Linked DNA regions of Homo sapiens: all the other regions are linked to region 4. Evidence: fine-mapped expression QTL. A gene starts in region 4. Each other region holds a variant in brackets. All regions are shown on one strand. Distances are from middle to middle. Region 1 overlaps UBOX5 (U-box domain containing 5). Region 2 overlaps UBOX5 (U-box domain containing 5). Region 3 overlaps UBOX5 (U-box domain containing 5). Region 4 holds the start of UBOX5 (U-box domain containing 5).

What was found. PIP is the estimated chance that this variant, and not a neighbour inherited with it, causes the effect.
Region 1: its variant is the best candidate, but not a certain one, in a credible set for the expression of UBOX5 in sun-exposed skin (GTEx, PIP 0.50).
Region 2: its variant is the best candidate, but not a certain one, in a credible set for the expression of UBOX5 in thyroid (GTEx, PIP 0.52).
Region 3: its variant is the best candidate, but not a certain one, in a credible set for the expression of UBOX5 in prostate (GTEx, PIP 0.68).

What each region holds. Positions count from the first base shown.
Region 1 is chr20:3,117,172-3,122,171 of GRCh38, reverse strand. UBOX5 (U-box domain containing 5) reads left to right here. Exons shown (of 5, transcript NM_014948.4): 3 at 1-788. The region is part of intron 5 of UBOX5-AS1 (UBOX5 antisense RNA 1); the gene reads right to left. Among named protein-coding and RNA genes, the nearest start is that of UBOX5-AS1, 13 kb to the right of the region's middle. The variant A/G (reference allele first, on the strand shown) is at 3,066.
Region 2 is chr20:3,127,828-3,135,702 of GRCh38, reverse strand. The region is part of intron 1 of UBOX5 (U-box domain containing 5); the gene reads left to right. The region is part of intron 5 of UBOX5-AS1 (UBOX5 antisense RNA 1); the gene reads right to left. Among named protein-coding and RNA genes, the nearest start is that of UBOX5-AS1, 25 kb to the right of the region's middle. The variant A/G (reference allele first, on the strand shown) is at 2,578.
Region 3 is chr20:3,136,616-3,144,490 of GRCh38, reverse strand. The region is part of intron 1 of UBOX5 (U-box domain containing 5); the gene reads left to right. All of the region lies in intron 6 of UBOX5-AS1 (UBOX5 antisense RNA 1), which reads right to left. Among named protein-coding and RNA genes, the nearest start is that of FASTKD5, 19 kb to the left of the region's middle. The variant A/C (reference allele first, on the strand shown) is at 5,582.
Region 4 is chr20:3,156,848-3,164,722 of GRCh38, reverse strand. UBOX5 (U-box domain containing 5) reads left to right here and starts at 4,858. Exons shown (of 5, transcript NM_014948.4): 1 at 4,858-4,957. It overlaps FASTKD5 (FAST kinase domains 5), which reads left to right and starts at 4,858. Exons shown (of 2, transcript NM_021826.5): 1 at 4,858-4,957. It overlaps LZTS3 (leucine zipper tumor suppressor family member 3), which reads left to right. Exons shown (of 5, transcript NM_001365618.1): 5 at 1-2,106. The coding sequence ends at 269.

The DNA.
Region 1 (5,000 bases), 41 kb after region 4:
CCAGGAGCTCTGGAATAAAGGGGCTCTTTCCCTTAGCCACGTGGCCCACTTAAGGATCTGTATCACCCATGTGACAGGCGGCGGTATCCCTTGTATCAAGCGGTTGGAAGTGTGGGGTCAGCCGGCCAAGACCTGCTCCCAGGAAGTGATAGACAGCATCCTGCTGGTCACCTCAGAGAACCTGCCTCAGGATGTGGCTCTGCAGGCTCCAGCCTTGCCCATGGAAAGTGACTGTGACCCTGGGGACCAGCCTGAGAGCCAGCAGGCTCCCTCCAGCCTGCAGAAGCTGGCCGAGATCATTCAGGATGTGCCTGAGGAGTTCCTGGATCCCATCACCCTGGAGATCATGCCTTGTCCCATGCTGCTGCCCTCAGGCAAGGTCATCGACCAGAGCACACTGGAGAAGTGTAACCGCAGTGAAGCCACATGGGGCCGAGTGCCCAGTGACCCTTTCACGGGGGTAGCTTTTACTCCGCACTCTCAGCCCCTGCCTCACCCCTCCCTCAAGGCCCGGATTGACCATTTCCTGCTCCAGCACTCCATCCCTGGCTGCCACCTGCTTGGGAGAGCACAGACGGCATTGGCAGTGATCCCTTCTTCCATTGTTCTGCCCTCTCAGAAAAGGAAGATAGAGCAGGCTGAACATGTCCCAGACAGTAACTTTGGTGTAAATGCTTCCTGTTTTTCTGCCACAAGCCCTTTGGTCTTACCCACTACCTCAGAGCACACTGCTAAGAAAATGAAAGCCACCAATGAGCCCAGCCTGACACATATGGACTGCTCGACAGGTAATTCAGCATCCTGTGTCCGCAGCCAGGCTCATCCATCTCCTTCCCAGGAGCTCTCAGCTCTGCTGCCCTTTGCTTTGTGCTTGGCCAGCTTACATTCCCGAGGCTGTGCCTGTGCTGCCTCCTTCCCGTTTCCCATCCTGGGGCCCCTCAGCTTTGTCTTCAGACCAGGGACAACCTGGAGCCTTGGAGGGGTTCCATGTGTTCTCGTCTATTCTCATCTGTTCCGAGGCTTCAGTCTGCGTGTTTCGCTCCTCTGTTGGTGATGGTCCCATGGGCACTGTTGCCTTCCTTGGGGTCCCTTTATGTGCCCTGGCCTGGTCAACACTTTTTCCTGGGCTTGAAGCCTCTGGTCAGAGCTGCTGGGAGGAAAGATACCAGTCCCTCAAAGCAGAGAATCTCTTCTGGTGCCTTCTTTGTGTTACTCATGTGACAGTGGGCTCCTCTGGGTGTTATTTCTAACCGTCACAGAGGTACAAGGATATATTGCATGGAGGTTCTCTGTGCGCCCCCCTCACCATGTGGCATGAGGACACAGAAAAGGAAAAAGGACTAGGTCTGTGGGCCTTCCTTTCAGGAGAGGGTTACTGAAGAGAAAAGCCACACTGAAGAGGGTGCACTCAGTAAATGTGTGGACAAATTGCAATATTCTCTTTGTGTTTTTTTCTGTTTTTCTTCTTTATTGCATTTGGCAGGATCCACCAGGTAAAATTGCAACAATCTTTTTTTTTTTTTTTTGAGATGGAGTCTCGCTGTGTCGCCCAGGCTGGAGTGCGGTGGCATGATCTCGGCTCACTGCAAGCTCTGCCTTCCGGGTTCACACCATTCTCCTGCCTCAGCCTCCCGAGTAGCTGGGATTAGGCGCCCGCCACCACGCCTGGCTAAGTTTTTGTATTTTTAGTAAAGACGGGGTTTCACCTTGTTAGCTAGGATGGTCTCAATCTCCTGACCTTGTGATCCACCCACCTTGGCCTCCCAAAGTGCCGGGATTACAGATGTAAGCCACTGCACTCGACTTCTGTTTTTTTTTTTTTTTTTGAGATGGAGTCTCGCTCTGTCACCAGGCTGGAGTGCAGTGGCGTGATATTGGCTCACTGCAACCTCCGCCTCCCAGGTTCAAGTGATTCTCCTGCCTCAGCCTCTGGAGTAGCTGGGATTACAGACGCGCGCCACCACGCCCAGCTAATTTTTGTATTTTTAGTAGAGAAGGGGTTTCACCATGGTGCCCGGGATGGTCTCAACCTGTTAACCTCGTGATCCACCTGCCTCGGCTTCCTAAAGTGCTGGGATCTGCAAGCCACTGTGCCTGGCCTGCAACATTCTTGAGTATGAGATTTAAGGATCCTGGCTTCCTGCCTCTTCCCTGGGGCATTGCCAGTGATTTCTAGGGCCGGTGATGCTGCTCTCTCCTGAGGTGAGCAGCCCTGGTTCACTGGGTGACCTCTGCAGCTGAATGTGTTCAGTGTGAATACCTCAGGGCAAGCTGGATGTTGGATCTTAGGCTGAGATAGATGTTTTTTTGTTGTTGTTGAGATGGAGCCTCACTCTGTTACCCAGGCTGGAGTGCAATGGCGCAATCTCGTCTCACTGCAGCCTCCGCCTCGCAGCTTCAAGCAATTCTCCTGCCTCAGCCTCCCAAGTAGCTGGGATTACAGGCATGTACCACCACACCGGCTAATTTTTTGTATTTTTAGTAAAGACAGGTTTTCACCATGTTGGCCAGGTTGGTCTCGAACTCCTGACCTCAGGTGATTCGCCCACCTCAGCCTCCCAGAGTGCTAGGATTACAGGTATAAGCCACCGCGCCTGGCCTGAGATAGATGTTTTTATCATGTTAAAGAAGTATTGGTTATCTATTGCTAGGTAACAAATTACCCCAAAACTTACTGGCTTACAGCAACAAACATTCATTGTCTCATAACTTCTGTGGATCACAAATCCCAGCGTAACTTGGCTGGATTCTCTGCTTCAGGGTCTTCCAAGTCTGCCATCAAACTGGTGGCTGAGGCTGTGGTCATCTCAAGGATCAACTGGGGAAGCATTTACTTCTAGTCTCACCCACATCATTGTTGCAAGATTCAGCTCGTTGATGCATTGTTGGACTGAGGCCTCACTTGCTGGTTGGCTGTTGGCCCAAGGCTGCCCTCGGTTCCTTGCCTTGTGGGCCTCTCCATAGGGCAGTGTACTGTGTGGGAGCTGTGCGTTCCAGAGAGAGTGCACAGACGAGGGAAATCCATCTTTTAGAATGTAATCTTGAAAGTCACACTCCTCACTTCT[A/G]TTGTATTCTTATTTTTCCCAAGGTATTTGTTAATTGCTTATTTATAATATTAAGAGAAATGATTTCTTAGCCTCCATCTTCATATTTCTTAGTTCGAGAACACAGATCAGTGACAAACTTCTGTGTAATTCAACCTAAATAATTCCTTCCTTCCTTCCTTTTTTTTTGAGATGGAGTCTCACTGTGTCACTCAGGGTAGAGTGCAGTGGTGTGATCTCGGCTCACTTCAATCTCTGCCTCCCGGGTTCAAGCAATTCTCATGCCTCAGCCTCTGGAATAGCTGGGACTATAGGTGCGTGCCAACACGCCTGGCTGATTTTTTTTCTTTTTTTTTGAGACGGAGTCTCGCTCTGTCGCCCAGGCTGGAGTGCAGTGGCGCGATCTTGGCTCACTGCCAGCTCCGCCTCCCTGGTTCACGCCATTCTCCTGCCTCAGCCTCCTGAGTAGCTGGGACTACAGGCGCCCGCCAGCACACCTGGCTAATTTTTTTAATACTTTTAGTAGAGACGGGGTTTCACTGTGTTAGCCAGGATGGTCTTGATCTCCTGACCTCATGATCCACCCACCTCGGCCTCCCAAAGTGCTGGGATTACAGGTGTGAGCCACTACACCTGGCTGATTTTTGTATTTTTATGAGGCAGAGTCTCACTCTGTCACCCAGGCTGGAGTGCAATAGCACAATCTTGGCTCACTGCAACCTCTGCCTCCTGGTCTAAGCAATTCTCCTGCCTCAGCCTCCAGAGTAGTTGGGATTACAGGTGCCCACAACCGTGCCCAGCTAATTTTTGTATTTTTAGTATAGACTGGGTTTTGTCATGTTGGCCAAGCTGATCTTGAACTCCTGACCTCAGGTTATCTACCTGCCTCAGCCTCCCAAAGTGCTGGGATTACAGGCATGAGCGATAGTGCCCGGCCTGTTAATGGTTTCTTTTTGTTTTGTTTTTTTGGAAACAGTCTCCCTCTGTCGCCCAGGCTGGAGTGCAGCAGTGACGCAATCTCTGCTCACTGCGACCTCTGCTGCTGGGATTTAAGTGATTCTCCTGCCTCGGTAGCCAAGACTACAGGCGCACAGCACCATACTGGCTAATTTTTTTTATTTTTATTTTTATTTTTTGAGACAGAGTCTCATTCTGTCGCCCTGGCTGGAGTGCAGTGTCGCAATCTCTGCTCACTGCAACCTCCGCCTCCCGGATTCAAGTGATTTTCCTGCCTCAGCCTCCTGATTAGCTGAGATTACAGGCGCTCGCCACCATGCCTGGCTAATTTTTGTATTTGTAGTAGAGATGGGGTTTCGCCATGTTGGCCAGGCTGGTCTTGAACTCCTGACCTCAGGTGATCTGCCTGCCTCAGCCTCCCAAAGTGCTGGGATTACAAGTGTGAGCCACCACGCCCAGCCCTGTTATTTATTTATTTATCTATATAGTGACGGAGTCTCGCTCTGTCGCCCGGGCTGGAGTGCACTTGTGCGATCTTGGCTCACTGCAACCTCTGCCTCCTGGATTCTAGCAATTCTCCTGCTTCTGCCTCCTGAGTAGCTGGGACTACAGGCACATGCCGCCACACCCGGCTAATTTTTCGTATTTTATTAGAGACGGTGTTTCACCATGTTGCCCAGGCTGGTCACAAACTCCTGAGCTCAGGCAATCCACCCGCCTTGGCCTCCCAAAACTCTGGGATTACAGGCATGAGCTACAGCGCCTGGCCCCTGTTAATAGATTTTAATGGTTCTGTTTGCTAGTGTTAGGATTTTTGTATTCATTAGTGGGGTTGGACTGTAGTGTGTGTGTGTGTGTGTGTGTGTGTGTGTGTGTGTGTGTGCCATCTTTGGTCAGGTGTCATTGATGATTTTTTTGTTCCATAGAAAGAATTTAGAATTTTTTCTTTTCTGTGCTGTGGAACAATTGAATAGTATTGGAATACCCACTCTGCCTGTC
Region 2 (7,875 bases), 29 kb after region 4:
TAACTGAAACAAAACTTTCACAAAACAGTGCTCACCCTTGTATGTGGTGCATGCTGACATTTTCTATTCTACTTAATTTTTAAAAATACTAGTTATGGCTCGGTAATTTAAGTTCTTAATTCTCAACCTGCAGTTTGGGAAACACTACCTCAGCCTACTAAGTGAAGTAGTCTAAACTTTTTGGCATGACGTTCAAGGCCTTCCTCATCCGGCTCCGTTTGCCTTCCCAGCTGTGGCTCCTACTCCACCTCCATAGCTAAGTGGCATGTTCAGCATCTCCTGAACCAGCCTCACACTTCCCTCCTCTGTGCCTTGACACTTCCTGATCCCTTTCCCCAGGGCTCCTTCTCTTTTGTTCATGTTCTCACCTCTTGGCTCCTGTAGTCTACAGTCTGTGGTAGCATTAATATGGAGTGTCTGTCCCTCTTCAGAGTTGTCCATGAGATCAGGCATGTGTCCTAGTCACCCTAAGTTCACATGTTTACTCCTGTGAATTTTCCCCTGAGTTGACCAATGTTTTGGTCAAAACTTTTGACCAACGTTTTTTTAAAAAAATTTTTTTTATCAAGTCACAATAAGAAATGCATTTTATATTAGATGATATACATGCATTTGTTAAATATATTTGTACAAAACTGAAACAATTTCATGACATATCCATACTATTTGCACCTTCATATTTTGTATTCTCTTCTAATTATTTCTTTTCTTTAACCCATTACTTGATTCCAAAAACCACAAATTGAAAAACATTGATCTAGGTTATCTTTCCTTACTGTGTCATCCGCAGAATGCTCTGTTACCTTTATATTATGTATATAAATTTTTTTTTTTTTTGAGACGGAGTTTCGCTCTTGTTGCCCAGGCTGGAGTGCAGTGGCACGGTGTCGGCCAAGTGCAACCTCCACCTCCCGGGTTCAAGTGATTGTGATTCTCCTGCCTCAGCCTCCCGAGTAGCTGGGATTACAGGCGCCCGCCACCATGCCTGGCTAATTTTTGTATTTTTAGTGGAGATGGGGTTTCACCATATTGGCCAGGCTGGTCTTGAACTCTTGACCTCAGATGATCCGCCTGTCTGGCCTCCCAGAGTGCTGGAATTACAGGCATGAGCCACCACGCCTGGCCTTTTTTTTTTTTTTTTTTTTCAGATGGGGTCTCACTCTGTTACCCAGGCTGGAGTGCAATGGTGCGAACTTAGCTCACTGCAACCTCCACCTCCCGGGTTCAAGCATATATTCTATTATATAATCACTGTTAGAAAGAAGTCTTTATTGTCTCATGACTCACAGAGAAGGCCGTTCATTTCATTTCTTATTTTTCCCACAAGAAGATTTGTAGAGAATGTTTATTGCAGCATTTTTTTCATAGTAAAAAATTTTAAACAACATAAGTAATAGGGCAGTGGAGAAACTGTTTTAGTCATACAATTAAATATGAGGAAGTTAAAATGAATACACCAAATGTAAACATTTCAATATGGAAAACCTTAATATAATGCTTAATGGAAAAGCAAGTTGCAAGATGATACACATAATATATTATCATTAAGGTATATTAAAATACATGACTACTATATGTAGTTTATATATATATATGCATACCTATACTGATTTGAATGACAGACAACATTAGATAAAGCTTACCTTAGCCGGGCAAGGTGGCTCACACCTGTAATCTCAGCACTTTGGGAGGCCAAGGTGGGTGGATTGCCTGAGCCCAGGAGTTTGAGAAGAGCCTGGGCAACATGGTGAAACCCCATCTCTACCCAAAAAACCCCCAAAAATTAGCCGGATGTGGTGGTGCGCGCCTGTAGTCCCAGATACTCGGGAGGCAGAGGTAGGAGAATACCCATCACCAGAGCCCTGGAAGTTGAGGTTGCAGTGAGCCGAGATTGCACCACTGCTTTCCAACCTGGGCATGGGAGTGAGAGCCTGTTTCCCCCCCCCAAAAAAAATAAGAAAAAAAAAGAGCTTACCCCTTGGCAAAAAGAGAGAGGAAATAGGATAGGTGCTGGGTTTTGTTTTTATCTTTTAAATATTGCTTTTAACACTGAAATCAGAAGCAAACATAGCAAAATGTTAACATTTGCTAAATCTAGGTGGTAGGTACAAGAGTGTCTACTATTTTATATTCTTTTTTTTTTCTTATAAACTGTATTGCCATCTTACAATGCCATTATTATCTGTCTCCAAGCTACTTCTCTGAAAGCAGGGCACATTAGCCACAATCTGAGGTTTTAGATTAAGTTATACTCAAGCCTTGTCTTTCTTGTACTTAGATGCCACATCTGGAGAAAGTGGCTATGCTTTGTAAGTACTGGACAGTGTTTGCAGTGAGTTCAAGTTACATGGCCATTTCCTCAGCAGGACTAGGGAGGCCGTCTTTCTGGGCTAGGCTGTTTGCATTTTCATATGTTGAGCCATTATTTTTTTTCTGTTAAGGCAGAAGGCATCTGACCTTAAAAGTCCAGGGTATTGGAACAAGATAGATGATGAGATTATACCTATTAAAGACTTTGATAGCAACCAGGTTCTTACGGAATCCTACTGTTTGGACATCACTGTTTCCCACAGAAAC[A/G]TATCATTTGTAAGATATTTTTAAAAAAGATCTGCCATTCTCCTGTGACAACACACTCATTCGTTTCAATTTGCATATTTCAATTTGATCTTCAGTCCTGAGTTGTTTTCAATCACTTTTTCCCCCAATCATTCTTTATTATTATTAATTATTTAATTTTTTTTTTTGTAGAGACTGGGTCTCGCTATGTTGCCCAGGCTAGCCTTGAACTTCTGACCTCAAGCAATCCCCCTGCCTTGGCCTCCCAAAGTGCTGGAATTTATAGGTGTACACAACCCCACCCAGCCATTTCTTTTTTTTTTTTTTTTGAGACAGTCCCACTCTGTCACCCAGACTGGAGTGCAGTGGCGCTATCTTGGCTCACTGCAACCTCCGTCTCCAGGGTTCCAGCAGTTCTCCTGCTTCACTCTCCCAAGTAGCTGGGATTACAGGCACCTGCCACCACACCCGGGTAATTTTTTGTATTTTTAGTAGAGACGGGATTTCGCCATGTTAGCCAGACTGGTCTCGAACTCCTGACCTCAAGTGATCTGCCCGCCTCAGCCACCCAAAGTGCTGGGATTACAGGCATGACCAATCACGCCTCGTTTCACCCAGCCATTTCTTTGTTATTATTATTATTAATACACCTTATAATTTAGAGCAGTTTAGATTTACCTAAAAATTGAGTATTATTAATGCTATTAACATCTTAGTGCGGTACATTTCTTATAACTAATGAGCCAATATTGATTAATTATTATTAAGTTTATAATTTAAGGTTCATTCTTTGTGCTGTATAATTCTTTGTGTTTTGTTTTTGTTCTGTTTTGTTTTGAGACAGGGTCTCACTCTGTTGTCCAGGCTGGAGTGCAGTGGCGTGATCTCGGCTTACTGCAGCCTCTGCCTCCTGGGCTCAAGTGATTCTCCTGCCTCAGCCTTCAGAGTAGCTGGGATTACAGGCATGCGCAACCATGCCCAGCTAATTTTTGTATTTTTAGTAGCATCGGGTTTTCACCATGTTGGCAAGGCTGGTCTCGAACTCCTGGCCTCAACTGATCCTCACGCCTTGGCCTCCCAAAGTGCTGGGATTACAGATGTGAACCACCACGCCCAGTTTTTTTTTTTTTTTTTTTTTTGAGACAGTGTCTCACTCTATTGCCCAGGCTGGAGTGCAGTGGCTCGATCTCGGCTCAGTGCAACCTCTGCTTCCCAGGTTCAAGCGATTCTCCTGCCTCAGCCTCCCCAGTAGCTGGGATTACAGGTGCCCGCCACCTTGCCCGGCTAATTTTTTATCTTTAATAGAGATGGGGTTTCATCATGTTGACCAGGCTGATCTCGAACTCCTGACCTCAAGTGCTTTGCCCGCCTTTGCCTCCCAAAGTGCTGGGATTATAGGCGTGAGCCACCACGCCCAGCCTGTGTTGTATAATTCTATAGGTTTTGAATTACAGGTTTTGAATATATAGGTTTTGAAATGTATAATGTCATGTATCTACCATTACAGTGTAATACAGAATAGTTTCACTGCCATTTCATTTTTATCTCTATACTCCAGTGCCTAGCACAGGGCTTGCAAATGTTCCATGAATGTGCAATAATATCCCATCTAAAATTAAATATGAGCAAAATAAATTCAGTAGTACAGTACATTTAAAGAACAATATGCTACAACCAAATAGAATCTCTCCTGGGAATAAAAAGGATGGTTTAAAATTAGAAAAAAGTGTTAATGTATCCCATTAGTCTGTCAGATAAGATAAATAATAAAAGACAATATATAGAGAAAAATCAGAATTCAGAGCATATTCCTGACTTCAAAAAATATGAAAATTAGAATGCTTTATTAACATAAAGATGATATTTCAATCTAACAATCAACATTATGTTCAAAGAGGCATTTTCTTTTTTTTTTTTTGAGATGGAGTCTCACTCTGTTGCCCAGGCTGGAATGCAGTGGCATGATCTCGGCTCACTGCAACCTCTGCTTCCTAGGTTCAAGCGATTCTTCTGCTTCAGCCTCCCGAGTAACTGGGGCTACAGGCTCACGCCACCATGCCTGGATAATTTTTGTATTTTCATAGAGATAGGGTTTCACCATATTGCCCAGGCTGGTCTTGAACTCCTGACCTTATGATCTGCCCGCCTCGGCCTCCCAAAGTGCTGGGATTACAGGTGTGAGCCACTGCGCCTGGCCCAAAGAGGCATTTTCTAATGGGCACAAACGAGGATGGCAACTGTCTTACTGTTTTGTGTAATTCCGGAAGTTCTGGCTAATGCAGTAAATGAGAGACAGAAATAAGAGTTACCATTTTGAGAAAGGAATTCTCATTATTGAGATAATAGGATTGTAAAAAAAAAAAAAGCAAAAACAACTGAAAATGTGTTAAAATCAATAAGAGTTCAATAAGACAGCTGAACATATAGTAAAGATACCAAAGTGAAAAGCTTTCCTATATAGGAATGACCAGTTAGAAAAATTAATGGGTTAAGAAGAACCTTTCATAAATAGCAACCTTAACTAGAAACATGTAGGACCCCTTGAGTAAAAAAGTGAAAATTGTACTAAAGGAAAAAATAATGACAAAAATCTACTTAAGATTTTGATCTTAAGGTAGTAGTAAAAAGTTGCAAACAAGTTGGGTTTGGTGACCCATACCTGTAGTTCCAGGACTTGGGGCACTCAGGCAGGAGGATTGCTTGAGCTCACGAATTTGAGGCTGTGGTGCACTGTAATGGCACCTGTGAATAGCCACTACACTCCAGCCTGGGCAACATAGTGAGACCCTGTCTTTAAAAAAAAAAAAAAAAAAGGCATAAACAACCTAAATGTCTCCCAAAAGGAGAATTATTTATGCCCCCCACCCTCTTTGTTTGTTTATTTATTTATTTATTTATTTATTTATTTATTTATTTATTTTTGGAGACAGGGTCTCACTCTGTCACCCAGTCTGGATGGAGTACAGTGGTGTGATCATAGCTCACTGTAGCCTCAAACTCCTGGGGTCAAGCCATACTCCTGAGTAGCTGGGACTACGGACACATGCCACCATGCCCAGCTAATATTTTTAAAATTTTTTGTAGAGATGGCATCTCACTTTGTTGCCCAGGCTGGTCTCAAATTTCTGGCCTCAAGCAATCCTCCTGCCTTGGTCTCCCAGAGTACTGGGATCACAGGCGTGAGCCCCTATGCCCAGCATATTTATACCCCACTTTGTTCCAAAATTATTTTAAGCTACCTTACATATTATGCTCTATTATATAAAAATAAATAATTCAGGTAGGGAGAAATTTGAGGGATGGGCCACAGATTTTATTCGGAGCTTTCTAACAGCCAGAGTCAAGAAGGAATGTGATCCATATTCATACCATAAAATATTGAATTGCTTGCGATAAACAACTCTTCTAGTACTGAGACCAAAGAGAAAATTTTCTTATGGGTCTCCAAGAGAGGATACCATATAGAACAGACAATGATCATTTTGTCCACTAAACAAAACAGTAACTGACTTTAAAGAGCTGTTTCTTATTGAAGTTCCTTGTCACACAGTGCCAATGAGTAGCTTGGTGAAGAGTATTTGCAGGGGGTGGTGAGGGTGGTGATGGTTGTGGCTGGGATGAACATGAGGATAGGCCGGTGCACTGGTCTGAGGGTCAGCTCAATGGAGTGGTATATTTTAGAGATTAAAATTATGGTTATCACCTGATATGTCCTGCTACTCTGGTGTCCTATGAATCGTCACAAGTCGGCCACTGAATTTTTATCAATGTGTTACATTTATTTTTGCAACTGGTGAGGATCAAAACTGCTAAGAAATCTGTCAGATAGTGGTGTGGGATAAGATCTGCAGCAGCCACGAGGAGTGCCAGACAAGAGGCAAGAGAAGCTACTTGGACCAGCACCAAGGAGCATGTAACGGGGCTGGACTGAACACTCTTCTGTAAATGTTCCCTCAACTTATATTTTGATGAGTGCTGTGGAGAGCAGGTAGTCTGTGTCTGGTCAGGGTTAGGTCCATATGCTTTTGTAGTTGACTGGGGTAGTTGACAGCCCCTGACGCGGGTGGAGAAGCCTCATGAGCTGAGATGCTTGAACAGAAGGCTGACTCGCTTCCACACAGAGGTGGGAAGAAGTAGCTAAGGGTATACCAAGATTTTCCTTAATTTCAGGTCTGATCTAACACATATTGGAAAGGGCAGTCAAGGTTTCCACATTTCTATATCATAGAGCATAATAACCACATTTAAGTCTAGAAGAACTCTTATTTTATTTTACTTTATTTTTTGAGACAGGGTCTCACTGTCACTCAGGCTGGAGTACAATAGCACAGTCATAGCTCACTGTAACCTTGCACTCCTGGCTTCAAGTGATCCTCTTGCCTCCGCCTCCCAAGTAGCTGGGACTAGAGGTGTGTGCTACCACACCTAACTAATCTTTTTATTTTTTTGTAGAGACGGGGTCTTGCTGTGTTGCCCGGGCTGATCTCGAACTCCTGGGCTCAAGTGATCCTCTCACCTTAACCTCCTAAAGTGTTCGGATTATAGGTGTGAGCCACTCCGCCCGGCTTTGTTTTTTCTTGGCTTTCTGTCAGGGCCAAGAGGGGAAGAGGGAACTGCCTGGAGCAGTGAAAAGAAAACCCTCTCAAGTCCCAGGGCCCCAACCTCAGCCATCTGCCTGGGGCCAGCACCGTTCTGCATATGTCTGTCTCTAGTGTCATCATCTATGTCAGTAGCATATTGTCTGCTTTCCTTTGGCATCCTAGGCTTGCTTTTCCAAGGAGGAATGTTTTATTTCATTGGCTTGGCTATATATTTATTTTAATGGTTCTATATTCAATTAAAGTGAATGGCTTAATTTTACATTTAAAACAAACCGACAGGAAGCTACTATGCTAGTTGGGCAGGGAAGCTGGGGGAAATGCTGCTCTAAATGAGTTCTGGTGTCCTGGCCAAAAAGAGGTAACTATAGGGCTTCTGAGGATATTTGTAGACACAATGCATCAGATACTTCATTTGTTTTTACTTATCGTGGAGAACACGAAAGGTATCAGAAGCCTGGAGACATTGTTAATATAATCTTTCAGAAAAGGAATTGTAGAAACTTTAGTCCATGTGGATGCCAGGCCAGATTCTAAAATTCTCTGGCAAAGCAAAGGTGTATGTGCCTCAAAGTGGGAAGCACTAGGAGTTTCAACACAGGCTCACAAAGAACAGGAGGCTTTAGGCCAGGGGCTTTCTACCCCATGAGATTCATGTTTCTTCTATCATGATGAACTTAAAGCCAAATAGTATAACCTACTTATGTACACACGCTAATGT
Region 3 (7,875 bases), 20 kb after region 4:
CACATTGAGTTAATTTTTATATGTAGCATGAGGGAACAGTCCAACTTCATTCTTTTGCATGTGGATATCTAGTTGTCCCAGCATCATTTGTTGAAGAGGATATTCTTCCTGCATTGAATGGTTTTGGCATCTGTGTCAAATCAATTGACCATACATGTGGGGGGTTATTTATGGATTTTCATTTCTATTCCATTCATCTATTCTTATGCCAATACCACATAATTGGGAAGTATGAGTCCTCCAACTTTGTTATTTTTCAATATTGTTTTGGCTACTCATGGTCCTTGCACTTCCATATGAATTTTAGGATCAGTTTGCCCATTTCTGCAAGAAAAGCCTTTGGGCTTTTGATAGGGACAGTATTGAATCTGTCGTTTGCTTTGGGGAATTTTGCCATCTTGACAGTATTAAGCCTTCTAATCCATAATCATGGTATATATCTTTTAATTTATTTAGATTTTTAATTCAGGAATGTTTTATAGTTTTCAGTGTATAAATCTTACATTTTCTTAGTTTTTTGTTTTGTTTTGTTTGATATAGGGTCTCGCTCTGTCACCCAGGCTGGAGTGCAATGATGTGATCGTAGCTCACTGCAGCCTCAAATCCTGGGCTCAAGCGATCCTCTAACCTCAGCCTCCCAAGTAGCTGGTACTACAGGTGCATGCCACCATAACTGGCTAATTTTTTTTTTGTTTTTTTGAGACGGAGTCTCACTCTGTCACCCAGCTGGAGTGCAGTGGTGCGATCTCGACTCACTGCAAGCTCCGCCTCCCAGGTTCAGGCAGTTCTCTGCCCAGCCTCCCGAGTAGCTGGGATTACAGGCACCTGCCACCACGCCCAGCTAATTTTTTGTATTTTTAATAGAGACAGGGTTTCGCCATCTTGGCCAGGCTGGTCTTGAACTCCTGACCTCGTGATCCACCCACCTCGGCCTCCCAAAGTGCTGGGATTACAGGTGTGAGCCACTGTACCCCGATGTTAACTTTATTCCTAATTATTTTATTCTTTTTTATGCTATTGTAGATGCAATTGTTTTTAAAACTTCTTTTATGAGTTGTTAATTGTGAGTGTTTAGAAATACAGATGATTAATCAGGCATGGCGGCTCACACCTGTAATCCCAGCACTCTGGGAAGCTGAGGCGGGCAGACCACTTGAGGCCAGGAGTTTGAGACCAGCCTTGCCAACATGGTGAAACCTGTCTCTACTAAAAATGCAAAAATTAGCCAGATGTGGTGGCACACACCTTAGCAACTCAGGAGGCTGAAGCATGAGAATCACTTGAGCCTAGGAGGCAGAGAGGTTGCATTGAGTTGAGATCATGCCACTGTACTCCAGCCTGGGTAACAGAGCCAGAGACTCTGTCTCAAAAAAAAAAAAAAAAAAAAAAAAAAGACAGATGATTAACCTGCTATTGTGCTTAATATTCATTTGTTAGCCCTAATAATTTTTTTTGTTGCTGTGTGAATTTTTCAGAATTTCCTATATATAGGCTCTTTTCATCTGTGAATACAGTTTTATATCTTCTTTTCCACTTTGGATTCCTTTTTTTTCTTTTTTCTTGCCTTATTGCTCTGGTTGGAACTTCTAATAAGATATCGAATACAAACAATGAAAGTAGGCATCTTTGTCTTGTTCTGGATTTTAGGGGAATGTTTCCAGTCTTTCACCTACCATTGGGTATATACACATACTTTTCTTTTTTTTTTTTTTTTTTTTGAGACAGAGTTTCTCTCTGTCGCCCAGGCTGGAGTGCAGTAGCGTGATCTCTGCTCACTGCAGCTTCTGCCACCCAGGTACAAGCGATTCTCGTGCCTCAGCCACCCAAGTAGCTGGGATTACAGGAGTGTGCCACCAAGCCCGGCACCTTTTTTTTTTTTTTTTTTTTGAGACGGAGTCTCACTCTGTCACCCAGGCTGGAGTGTAGTAGCACGATCTCAGCTCACTGCAACCTCCACCTCCCGGGTTCAAGAGATTCTCCTGCCTCAGCCTCCATAGTAGCTAGGATTATAGGCACCCACCACTACGCCTGGGTGATTTTTTTTGTATTTTTAGTAGAGACAGTGTTTCGCCAAATTGGCCAGGCTGGTCTCAAACTCCTGACCTCAGGTTATCTGCCCACCTTGGCATCCCAAAGTGCTGAGATTACAGGCATAAGCCACCATGCCTGGCCAATTTTTTTTTGTATTTTTAGTAGAGATGGGGTTTCACCATGTTGCCCAGGCTGGTCTCGAACTCCTGGCCTCAAGTGATCTGCCCACCTTGGCCTCCCAGAGTGCTGGGATTATAGGTGTGAGCCACCAATACTGACCTTTTTTTTTTTTTTTTCTTTTTGAGACTGTCTCACCCTGTTGCCCATACTGGGAGTGCAGTGGCACTATCATGGCTCACCGCAGCCTCGACCTCCTGGACTCAGGTGATCCCTTTTGCCTCAGCCTTCCAAGTAGCTGAGGCAAAAAAAAAAGAAAAGAAAAGAAAAGAAAAAGGGTCTCACTCTGTTGCCCAGGCTGGAGTGCAGTGGGATGATTATGGCTCACTGCAGCCTCAAAATCCCAGGTTCAAGTGATCCTCCTGCCTCAGCCTTCCAAGTAGCTGGGACCACCTGTGGGCACACTACGACATCTGGCTAAATTTTTATATTTTGTAGAGTGGAGTCTTTCTATGTTGCCAAGGCTGGTCTTGAACTCTTGGGCTCAAGCAATACTCCTGCTTCAGTCTCTCAAAGTGTTGGGATTACAGGCATGAGCCACCACTCCCGGCTGAGTATGATGTTAACTATGGGGTTTTTATAAACCTTTTATCATGTTGAGGAAGTTATTTTTTATTTTTATTTATTTATTTTTTTGAGACGGAGTTTCGCTCTTGTTGCCCAGGCCGGAGTGCAATGGCATAATCTCGGCTAACCACAACCTCCGCCTCCCGGGTTCAAGTGATTCTCCTGCCTAAGCCTCCCAAGGAGCTAGGATTACAGGCATGCACCACCCCCAGCTAACTTTGTATTTTTAGTAGAGACGGGGTTTCTCCATGTTGGTCAGGCTGGTATCAAAAACTCCTGACCTCAGGTAATCCACCTGCCTCGGCCTCCCAAAGTGTTGGGATTACAGGTGTGAGCCACCACACCTGATGAGGAAGTTATTTTTTATTCCTAGTTTGCTGATTGTTCAATAAATATAATATGCAGCAAATATTCTTTATTTTTAAAATTTTTTCAGCACACACCACTTTTCAGATTAAGTGAACATTCTTTATTTTTATTTGTTAAACCTGGCAACTGGCCGGGTGTGGTGGCTTACATCTATAATCCCAGCACTTTGGGAGGCTGAGGCGGGCGGATCACCTGAGGTCAGGAGTTCAAGACTAGCCTGTCCAACATGTTGAAACCCCGTCTCTACTGAAAATACAGAAATTAGCCGGGCATGATGGCACGTGTCTGTAATCCCAGCTACTTGGGAGGCTGAGGCAGGAGAATCACTTGAACCTGGGAGGCAGAGGTTGCAGTGAGCTGAGATTGTGCCACTGCACTCAAGCCTGGGTGACAGAGTGAGACTCAGTCTAAAAAAAAAAAAAAAAAAAAATCTGGCAACCCTAAAAAAAAAAATAGATGGGAGAGAGGGAGGGGAGAGGGGGCAGCAAAGGTTGAAAAACAAACTGTTAGTACTATGCTCAGTACCTGGGTGACATGATTATTTGTACCCCAAACCTTAAGCATCATGCAATATACCCAGGTAACAAACCTGCACATGTGTCTCCTGAATCTAAAATAAAAGTTGAAAAAAAAAAATCTGGTAACCCTAAGAAAGATGCACCATTAAACCAGCGTGGTTTTTTGTGGGAGGAGTTGGCAGAAGAGCCTTGAATGTGTTTACATGTTGACGATAGGTTTCAGTAGTCAGAGGTAAGTTGAAAATTCAGGAGAGAAGCAAGAGCAGATGGAGTAGGCCATGGAGGAGAGGGAAAGGGTTAGGGTTAGGGTCAGGTTTTATGTTGGAGAGACTGGCCACCTCACCTGGGTTCCCGTAGAATTTTGCTGACACTGTTACTAAGGTGCTGAGTAAATGGTAGTAAAAACCTTTGTAGATCTTGTTTTGAGACTGAGTCTCTCAGGAGAAAGACGGCTTATCTGTGCCTTGTTTTGAGCCTATACATTTCTTAAACGTAAAAACTGGGCTGGGTGCGGTGGCTCACTCAACGCCTGTAATCCCAGCATTGTGGGAGGCCAAGGTGGGCGGATCACCTGAGGTCAGGAGTTCGAGACCAGCCTAGCCAACATAGTGAAACCCCATCTCTACTGAAAATACAAAAATCAGCTGGGCATGATGGTGTGTGCCTATAATCCCAGCTACTCAGGAGGCTGAGACAGGACAATCGCTTGAGCCCAGGAGGTGGAGGTTGCAGTGAGCTGAGATTGCACCATTGCACTCCAGCCTGGGTGACAGAGTGAGACTCCATCTCAAAAAAAAAAAAAAAAAAAAAAAAAGTAAAAAGGCCGAGTGTGGTGGTTCATGCCTATGATGCCAGCATTTTGGGAGGCCCAAGTGGGCAGATGACAAGGTCAGGAGTTCGAGACCAGCCTGGCCAACATGGTGAAACCCCATCTCTACTAGAAATAAAAAAATTAGCTGGGTGTGGTGGTGCATGCCTGTAATACCAGTTACTCAGGAGGCTGAGGCAGGAGAATCGCTTGAACCCAGGAGACGGAGGTTGCAGTGAGCCAAGATCGTACCATTGCTCTCCAGCCGAGGTGACACAGCAAGACTCCGTCTCAAAAAATAAAAATAGGTTGGGTGCAGTGGCTCACGCCTGTAATCCTAGCACTTTGGGAGGCCAAGGTGGGTGAATCACCTGAGGTCAGGAGTTTAAGACCAGGCTGTCAGGAGTTTAAGACCAGGCTGGCAAACATGGTGAAACCTCGTCTCTACTAAAAATACAAAAAAATTAGTTGGGTGTGGTGGTGGGTGCCTGTAATCCCAGCTACTCAGGAGGCTGAGGCAGGAGAATCGCTTGAACCCACGACGGGGAGGTTGCAGTGAGCCGAGATCGCGCCATTGCACTCCAGCCTGGGCAACAAGAGCAAAACTCTTGTCTCAATAAATAAATAAATAAATAAAAATTAAAAATAAAGAGGAAAAACTGAGTCTACTTGTGCCTAGCACATGTTAAGCCCTTAGAGGGTGACTTGGCTCCACGTGGTATAAAACTGCAGGCTTCTTTGGGGCTCTAACCTGTGTTCTGGTTTTTTTGCATACCTCTCACTGGTGGGTAACTGTGTGGGATGGGCTGGGACAACTGTCTTTCATTTTAACCAGTTGTAAGAAAAAGGCACATGAGTCAAACTTTTTTCATGGATGGACAGGTAACTCAATTTAGAAATTATAAGAAGTAGTGCACTTCTTTAAAAGCTGAAGTGCCCAATTTATGAAATTGCTCAGTGCATTGATATTCCACCCACTCTTTGAGGTGAAATGCTTTTCTCTTACTTGACAGGTAATCTTTTCTTCTTCTTTTTTTTCCCTTCTGTAACCTGTTTGAGTCTAGTCTTTAAAATATGTGTGTCTGCCAGAATTACTTTTCATTACATCTCT[A/C]TGAGACTCAAAATCAGATTGTATAACGCAGCTATGGTAACTTTGTAGGCTGAAGGAAGCTGGATGCTGAGGTGTTCAGAAAGTGTCATGGTCACCTTATTCTCTTCTAAATTATCCTTCCACACTTCCCTACCCCCAGGTGCTGAACCTCAACACCAAAAACAAAAGGTTTGTTGGTTGCTTCAAGCTCCAAGGAAGCACAGACAACAACCTTCGAGACAGGGCAACCAACTCTTCCAAGTTTGCCCAGGTTTTAGCACCAAAAGTACTATGTTCTGGAAAACTCCTTAGCTGTGGGTATGCCAAGACAGTTGGCCACTCAACTCCTGGATCCCTTCTTGGCCCTTCCCTTGCACTTCCCTTTCTGAGCCCTAGTACTGGCAGCTGCAAAAAGTACTCTGAACATAAATCTCAGTCTTCTCCGCTGTTATCCTGAGACCTCAGGCATACATCAACTTTCAATACATAAAAGGAAAAGAAGAACAACTTATCCCACCAGCCTAGTATGTCGGATGTTTACATTTCTGCATGCCCACCATTACCTCTCCAACTATTTATGTATACATATTCCTAGACATAGATTTTTAACAAATGTATGATCATAATACTTTCATAATACTTTTTTTTTTTTTTTTGAGACAGTCTCCCTCTGTCGCCCAGGCTGGATGGAGTGCAGTGGTGTGATCCCAGCTCACTGCAACCTCCGCCTCCCAGGTTCAAGCCATTCTCTCACCTCAGCCTCCTGAGTAGCTGGGACTACAGGCATGCGCCACCATGGCTGGCTAATTTTTGTGTTTTTAGTTGAAACAGCATTTCACCATGTTGGCCAGGCTTATCTCAAACTCTTGACCTCAAGTGATCTGCCCACTTTGGCCTCCCAAAGTGCCGGGATTACAGGCGTGAGCCACCATGCCCAGCCTATATATACTTTTGCATTTTCCTGCATAGTTATATTTATCATTTAAGTGACATGAATGCCAAGACTAAATGTGTCACTCAAGTTTGTTTCTTACAGTGTGGGCAGTGAGCTTAACTGGAGTCTTCAGCCAAGGCTTAGATCTGGGTGAAAAATTTCAAGACTTCTGTGGAAGTAGAGTATTTGGATTTATAAGATAAAAGACTTTCTAAAGGATAACATGAAATTCTTGTGATAAAAGTGTTCTGTATCAACTGTGGTTGTGATTACCCAACTTTGCACATAGAGTAAAATTGCACTGAACTAATTAGATAGGCACACACAAATGAATGCATGCAGACCTGGTGAAATCTGAAAATCGGTGAATCATTACCAGTATCAGTAGGCTGGTTATGAAGTTCTAGTATAGCTATGCAAGATGTTACAGCCAGGCACGGTGGCTCACACTTGTAATCCCAACACTTTGGGAGGCTGAGGTGGGTGGATCACCTGAGGTCAGGAGTTCAAGACCAGCCTGGCCAACATGTTGAAACCCCGTCTCTACTAAAAATACAAAAAATAGCCAGGCATGGTGGCGGGCACCTGTAATCTCAGCTACTCAAGGAGAATCACTTGAACCCAGGAGGCGGAGGTTGCAGTGAGCCTGAAAGAGTATGTGGGATCTCTCTGTATTGTTTTTTAACAACTACACATGAGTCTACAATTATCTTTAAAAGTTTAATTAGATCTTTTAAAAAGAAACAATTTCTGGTTGGGTGTGGTGGCTCACGCCTGTAATCCCAGCACTTTGGGAGGCCGAGGCAGGTGGATCACTTGAGGTCAGAAGTTCGAGACCATCCTGGCTACCATGGTGAAACCCTGTCTCTACTGAAAATGCGAAAATTAGCCAGGCATGGGTCATGCCTGTAGTCCTACCTACTTGGGAGGCTGAGGCACAAAAATTGCTTGAACCCGGGAGGTGAAGGCTGCAGTGAGTCGAGATTGCCCCACTGCACTCCAGCCCGGGCATCAGAGTGAGACACTGTCTCAGAAAAACAGGGACTGGGTGCAGTAGCTCACGCCTGTAAACCCAGCACTTTGGGAGGCCAAGGTGAGTGGATCACGAGGTAAGGAGATTGAGATAATCCTGGCTAACACAGTGAAACCCCGTCTCTACTAAAAATACAAAAAATTAGCTGGGCATGGTGCCAGGCGCCTATAGTCCCAGCTACTCGGGAGGCTGAGGCAGGAGAATGGCGTGAACCTGGGAGGTGGAGCTTGCAGTGAGCTGAGATCATGCCACTGCACTCCAGCCTGGGCAACAGAACAAGACTCCATCTCAAAATAATAGTAATATTAAGGCCGGGCACAGTGGCTCACGCCTGTAATCCCAGCACTT
Region 4 (7,875 bases):
CGGCTGAGCGGCGGGCCCGGGAGCGCCAGGGTGCCAGCTTCGCCGAGGAGCGCCGCGTGTGGCTGGAGGAGAAGGAGAAGGTGATCGAGTACCAGAAGCAGCTGCAGCTGAGCTACGTGGAGATGTACCAGCGCAACCAGCAGCTGGAGCGCAGGCTGCGGGAGCGCGGGGCCGCAGGGGGTGCAAGCACGCCCACTCCCCAGCATGGCGAGGAGAAGAAGGCCTGGACCCCCTCCCGCCTCGAGCGCATTGAGTCCACAGAAATCTGATCGACCTGGGCACTCGGCATTTTGACACATGTCCTGTCAAAAGGCCAGAGTCCCCAGTGTCCCCTCCCCTCCATCTCTCTTCCCCATAGACCCCATAACCCCAGACCAAAGAGGTTCTCTAAGCAGCTGTGACCAGGTTCCTCCCTCCCCACCTGCCCTCCTAGCTCCAGCACTGCCCCCGTGGCAGCCCACTTGGACCCCCCTAAAAGGAGGGAATAGGAGGAGGGCAGGGTGAGTGGGGGCAATCCTAGGTGGTGGGGGAGTCATGCTCCCTTTCTCGGCACCCCCTTGTTGGAGATGGAGGCAGCAGACGTGCAGTGCCATAAGGTGCCCCAGTCCTTCTGGAGGCCTGGGCTGCTACTGTTGGCCACCCTGTGTCTAGTGATGCTCTCTGTGCTCACCTCCTAGGCCATGGAGCCTGAGGGGGCCTGCACCAGGTTTGCTGAAACTGACAGAGCCTGGGCTCCAGACCTCTCTCCCTCCTACAGTGCTCTCCCTCCCTGGGCAGATTGGCAGGACAAGTGGGAGCAGATGGCCTGCCTTTGGCTGAGAGGGCTACCTGCCCAGCCCCTCCCCCAACAAGATCTCTTGGACTCAGGCCTCAGAGCCTGGCCTGGTTGTGAGTGTGTGTCCCTGTGTGTGTGTTGCGGGAGGGGAGGACTGGGGCTGGAAGTCCAGCACCCAGGGAAGATCTGTCCTCCTGTTCTTGGGAAGCGTTGCCTGACGGCTTCTCGGCTCTACCCTCACCCTTCTGGCCAGGATCCCGCAGGGCAACAGCCCCATCTGCTTGGCTGACCCCACACCCAGGACCACTGTCCGGCTCTAACACAGCTATTAAGTGCTACCTGCCTCTCAGGCACTCTCCTCGCCCAGTTTCTGAGGTCAGACGAGTGTCTGCGATGTCTTCCCGCACTCTATTCCCCCAGCCTCTTTCTGCTTTCATGCTCAGCACATCATCTTCCTAGGCAGTCTCTTCCCCAAAGTCTCACCTTTTCTTCCAATAGAAAATTCCGCTTGACCTTTGGTGCACTGCCCACTTCCCAGCTCCACTGGCCCAAGTCTGAGCCGGAGGCCCTTGTTTTGGGGGCGGGGGGAGAGTTGGATGTGATTGCCCTTGAAGAACAAGGCTGACCTGAGAGGTTCCTGGCGCCCTGAGGTGGCTCAGCACCTGCCCAGGGTAGGCCTGGCATGAGGGGTTAGGTCAGCCAATGTCAGCTGCTTCTCTTGGGGCCCTCTCAGAGTCTATCTCCCCAAGACAGGAAGGGAAAAGCAAATTTCTAATTCACCAGCAATAAAAATTGGAGGAGGCTTGGCCCTCAGCCCTTATATCTCTCTCTTTTTCACTCTCTTCCTCCCACCCCCAAGACTGAGTTTTGGGGGGCAAGGTGGAGAGAGCTGGCAACTACTGTGAGCAAGTCCCCTAGCCCCTGACCAGCCTCCTCCCATGACTGGTGACTGTTTAATGAGCTGTGCATCCCCCACAAAAACATGAGTGCCCCTCTGTGTGGCCTCTAACCCTCTGCACAGCCCTTCTGGGTGGTCCTCACCAGGTCTCTGAGCTGGGTGGGAGGCCATCCTGGCGACCACTGCCCATTCCATTCACCCCTCACTGTACCTGCCCTAGAACCTGGGCCTAGGCCACAGGGGCAGGGAGAAGAGAAGGCATTAGTAAGAAAAAAATAGAAAAAAATATGAACAGACTCAGCTTTGGGACGTCCAACCACAAAAGAAATTATATATAAATATATATAAATATATATCTCTACCATATGTGATGGAAAGACTTTTTGTTTTCCTTTCCCAAAGAAATAAAACGGAAAAAGCCTCTTGAGTGGTATTCTTTGGCCTGCTTGTGTCTTTGCAGGTGCGGGAGGTGAGGCCCGGGTGGGGGATGGGGGCAAAGCTGGAGTAAACAGATTTCCCAGAGGAGGCATGAGACTGGAGGTGCTCACTGGGCCGTGCTAGGAGGTTGGCCCAAAGCCCAAGTTCTGCCACGTTGCCCGGGAAGAGTCGTGGTGCCATGTATATGCCCAGTGGGGCTTTCTCTTCAGCTCAGACTGTTGCCAAAGGGGTTAAAAGCTGGCTCCAGCTCAGAATCTGGACACTAAGCTGCTAGCCAGAAAACAGGTGACGCAGGACAGCTAGATGCAGCCTGCAGTCGCCTAAGCCACCTTACAGCAACTGGTAGATGTTTGCGGGCTGAATGGATAGAAGTGAAGACTGGGAACAGGTTTGCAATTAATGGCGAAGCCCCAAAGGCAAAAGGGACCCAAGCGTGCTGCACAGCAGAGAGCTTCCCTTTACAACAGTTCCTCTGTCATCCTCTCAAAGCACACAATCAAGAATGCACTCTGCTGTAAGTAATCAAAGGACCTCAAAGAGTGGTTTATTTTTCCCCAACCTGACAAGAAATCCGGAGGTGGTGTCATGGTTGTTGGATCCTCGGGGACCTAGATTTTCATCCTCCCACTGTTCCATCCTTGGCATGTTGTTCCCTCCTTACCACAAAGTGGCTGCCACAGCTCCATGAAGACATTGAGGCGGCCCTACTTTATCATGAAAAGTAAAAGCTTTCCCAGAGCCCTCCCAGGACCCTTCCCTTTAAGTCCTGTTGGCCAGAACTGAGCCACATGCTCCTCCCACTTCAAGGGAGAATGGGAATTTGAGTATTACAAAGAGAAACAGGATTGTCATGGCTGCCTAGGAACAAACATGGTTCATTCCTTGGGGGCAGGCTCTCTGCTTTCTCTGGGTTCTACTGGCAAGGACAGAGTCATAACAATGAATAGTGTTTGCCCTGGTCTGGCCTGAGGGAGAGAACCCTCCCTAAGCAGTGGTGTCTGTGGTCTGGGGCTCCAGATATTCAAACAGCGCTGTCTCCAGAGCTCAGGAGTTGGGATGTCAGGCTTGCCCCTCCTGGCAGGGACGTGTTCTTCCTACATTGATTTTGTCTTCCCTACAAGATAGGCCCTGGAGGGAGCATGATTTCTCAGCTCTCCTTCACACCCCTTAGAGCCAAGGCATTGACAAGATATGAAGACCCTGATCAGCAGATCTCAAGTGCCCTCAGGAATGGCAGCCTGGGGCCAGGACTTTCTGATAGGTAGAGGTTTAGTAGAGTCTCTTTCTTGTCTAGGTACCTATACTGACAGCTGTGTCAATATATGTACCCAGTAGGACCCAGCCCTCCTTCTTAGGGTGGTGGAGAATCACCCTGGCTCATGCTCCATAGCTCTGGCCTCGCTAAGCCCCAGCTCCACATCCATTTCTCTCAGCAGGCTCATCTATCCATCATGTCACTAGCTCTTTTCCTGAGAGCACTTTACAGATACATCTCTATTATAAATGCATTAAAAAAAAAAAAAGATGGAGTCTCACTGTTGCCCCGGCTGGAGTGCAGTGGTGCAATCTCGGCTCACTGCAACCTCTACCTCCTGCGTTCAAGTGATTCTCCTGCCTTAGCCTCCCAAGTAGCTGGGGTTACAGGTGCACGCCACCATGCCCCGCTAATTTTTTTTTGTATTTTTAGTAGAGACGAGGTTTCACCATGTTGGCCAGGCCGGTCTCCAACACCGGGGATTACAGGTGTGAGCCACCACACCCGACCAATGCATTGTTAAAATTAGACAGGTGTGGTGGTGCATGCCTGTGGTCTTAGCTACTCAGGAGGCTGAGGCAGGAGGATCACTTGAACCCAGGAGGTTGAGGCTGCAGTGAGCCATGATTGCACCATTGCACCCCAGCCTGGGCAATGGGGCAAGACTTTGTCTCAAAAAAAAAAAAAATGTATTGTTTTTCTCACTGTACAGGCTTAGAGAATTTATGTGGGCCGGGTGCGATGGCTCATACCTGTAATCCCAGTACTTTCGGAGGCTGAGGCGGCAGTATTGCATGAGCCCAGGAGTTCGAGACTAGCCTGGGCAACATAGGAAGACACTGCCATCCCCGTCTCTATGAAAATAATAATAATAATATAACAAGAATGAATTTATGTGACTTCTCCAAGGCCATAAAACCCTGAGTGGTGGTCCTCAGATTTGAACATGTGTCTAAGCTACTTACTTTTTTTTTTTTTTTTTTTTTTTTAGATGGAGTCTCGCTCTGTGTCCCAGAGCTGGAGTACAGGGGTGCCCAGACTGGAGTACAGTGGCGAGATATCGGCTCACTGCAACCTCCGCCTCCCGGGTTCAAGCGACTCTCCTGCTTCCGCTTCCTGAATAGCTGGATTATAGGCGTGCGCCACCACGCCCGGCTAATTTTTGTATTTTTAGTAGAGACGGGGGTTTCACCACGTTAGCCAGGCTGGTCTCGAACTCCTGAACTCAGGTGATCCGCCCGCCTTGGCCTCCCAAAGTACTGGGATTACAGGCGTGAGCCACCGCGCCGGGACTAAGCTGCTTAATGACTTCCAGAGCGATCCATCCAGGAAGGTGTTTTCCCTCTGCAGGTCCTAGACTCCCCCTGCCTCCTCAACAACGTCCTCCAGTGGAAAATGTCCTTGGGAAACGCTGACAGAGTCTTTTGAGCCTCGGCCGCATCCGTCACTCGCGCAGCAGGCGGAAGTAGCGGGCAGTTGGCCGGAAGTGGGGCTGTGAGGCTCGGAGTCGCCGGAGGAGCCAGTATCTGTGTCGCCGCCGCCCGCGGCGTCCCCGGTTTGGTGTTGCGGCGCCCACCTTCGGGAGGATCAGGTGAGTGGCGGCGGCCGGGGAGGAGGTCGCGGCGGCCTCTTTCCGCGTTCACGACCGTCCTGGGCCTTGGCCTGTGCCTCCTGTCCTCCCGGCCGGCCCAGAGCTGGAGCGCATCGAGGCCTTGTTCAGCTCTTGGCCTGGGTTGCCAGTGCCTCTCGCAGGCCTGGCTGTGGTGAGAACTTCAGTGACTCTCGCCGCTCCTGAGTTTGTGATCTTTGGCAGGGGGCTTATCTGACCCTTGATTTTTTTTCCTCTGTGAAATGGAGATCGTAACAGTACTTGTCTCACGGTGCTGTTAAGAGAATGTAGTCAGATATTCTGCCGCGCCTCTCATCACACTTTGATGTGCCTGCGAATCGCTTAGAGATTCTGATTCTGTAGGACTGGGGTGGGTTCTGAGATAACTGTGTTCCTAACTAGATTCCAGACGAGGCTGAAGCCTCTGGCACGCAGACCACACACTGAGTAGCAAGGCCCTACAGTATGTTGCTTAGCATTTGGGATGCGGAGTCTTCGGTAAACATCAGTATGATAGGATATATACCTTCCCCCCATTTTTAGCAGTTTCTCGTTGCACAAGCCTAAGGGTAGTATTGATGGCCTTCTCCCTTTTTCTTTCCGTGGGTAAGAATAGTTGCTCTTTCTCTTTCTGTGCAAACCGTGACACAGCTCTTCTGTCTTGACTCAGGGAACTTTGGGTCCCCTCATATCAGCTGTGTTCATCAGTCTTGGGTGATGCTTCACTGATCAGACCCTTGGACAGTGCTTCATCCTGTGGAGCTGATAGCCAGCTGCGTTAGCACCAACTGTGGCTGGCGTTTTGTGCTCCAGTCATTTGTTGCTGCTGGAATCTGAATTCACGTTTTCTACACTTTGTGAATAGTAAGAATGGCTGCCTTTCCAGAACTAGATTCTGTAGCTCACTGACCTGAATGGTCCTGGGCAAGTCCTTGGATAGTTTGCTACTACCTGGTAGACTAAAATAAAATCTGGGCCGGACACAGTGGCTCACGCCTGTAATCCCAGCACTTTGGGAGGTCAAGGCGGGCGGATCACGAGGTCAGGAGATCGAGACCATCTTGGCTAATATGGTGAAACCCCGTCTCTACTAAAAATACAAAAAAATAGCTGGGCGTGGTGGCGGGCGCCTGTAGTCCCAGCTACTCTGGAGGCTGAGGCAGGAGCGTGGCGTGAACCCCGGGAGGCGGAGTGTGCAGTGAGCCGAGATCGCGCCACTGCACTCCAGCCTGGGCGAGAGAGCGAGAGTCCGTCTCAAATAAATGAATAAATAAATAAATAAATAAGTAAATAAAATCTGAAGACTCTGTGCTGCATAACATAACTTAAAAAGTGAGGCCTTTGGCAGTTATGCAGGTCTAATGTTTATTAGTCAGTATGATTTTCTTCCCCATCCATTGGTTTATTTTTTTAGTCCCTAATAAGGCCTTGCCATTCATCATGTGAATAAGTCAACTTTGATATAAAATAATTCTAAGGTCAGGTGCGGTGGCTCATGCCTGTAATCCCAGCACTTTGGGAGGCCGAAGTGGAAGGATTACTTGAGCCCAGGAGTTCGAGACCAACCTGGGGGCAACATAGGGAAACTCTGTCTCTACGAAAAAAACAAAAAACAAAAAAAACACACAAAAAAACAAAATGTAGCCAGGCGTGGTGGTGGGCTTGTAGTCCAAGCTACTTAGGAGGCTGAGGTGGGAGGATCGTTTGAGATCCTTGAGCGATCCTCGCCCGGGAGGTTGCCGGGGTGAGAGGTGGGGGGCAGTGGTCGAGGATGCAGTGAGCGGAGATTGCACCACTGCCCTCCAGACTGAACAACAGAGCGAGACCCTGTCTGAAAAAAAAAACAAAAGAATTCTGAAACTCCTTCTTTATTTGTCTGAAGTATGTACTATACAGCCTCTATACAGCCTTGCAAATTGTAAAAGCAGATAAAACCAAGTGTTTATTGAGCTAACAGTTATAGGTACTTGGACCATTTATTTGGGAATTTTCTCTTATGACGACTGTGTGCATGCAGCTACTTCTCTTTACCTGCCTGGATTTTGTAATTCCTCTAGAAGCCCCATTTAGATGGGCTGAGAGGACATGAGTGCCTACTGCCTGTTGTTATATGGAGAGGTTTTCTAAAGACAGGGTTTTATGAAACCCTTTAAAAGCAGTAGCTCTAACAGAATCATCTACAGGGCTTAGTCATACTATATCTACCCACATCCTTCTTGCCATTCTGATAGAGGAATAGCAGAGTCTTAAAAGAGAAGCGGAAGGGCTGTGTAGCTGAAAAAGTTTCACAAATGTTTGTGATGTGCTGTTTTTCTCCTATCAGCATGGAGTCTAGAACAAAAAGGAAGGGATGGATTGCTAGACTGAATAATTTTAGTTTGGCTTAGACCTGCGAGTGACACTGAACTTGACCTAAACACCTTTGCACTAGTGCTTCACCTTCGCAGTACTGGTAGACTCCTCTCTGAGGCCCTGCTCCCGTGTGGAAACAGAAACACAGAAGAGTCTAGCCCAGTTAACATCCACATTAACAGCTAAGGTCCTTACTGCCAGTCTCTAAGCCCTCACTAGGGGCTTTGAAGTTTTGTAGATTCTCAGCAGAATACCTCAGCACCTAGAGAAAGTTCGGTTTTTTTGCCCTTTTTTTTTGGTAGAGACAGGGTCTCGCCATGTAGCCCAGACTGGTCTTGAACTCCTGGCCTCACGTGATCTGCCTGCTCGGCCTTCCAAAGTGCTGGGATTATGGTCATGAGCCACCTGTCTAGCCAGTTTTTTTGCCTTTTTAATTCTTAAGGTTGCTCAACAAATTATTTGCTGAGACAAGAATAGGGTTGGAGTGTTCATTTATTTGTGGCAATTTTATTGGGACATAGAAAGGAAAAGTGTTAGAATTGAGGGAT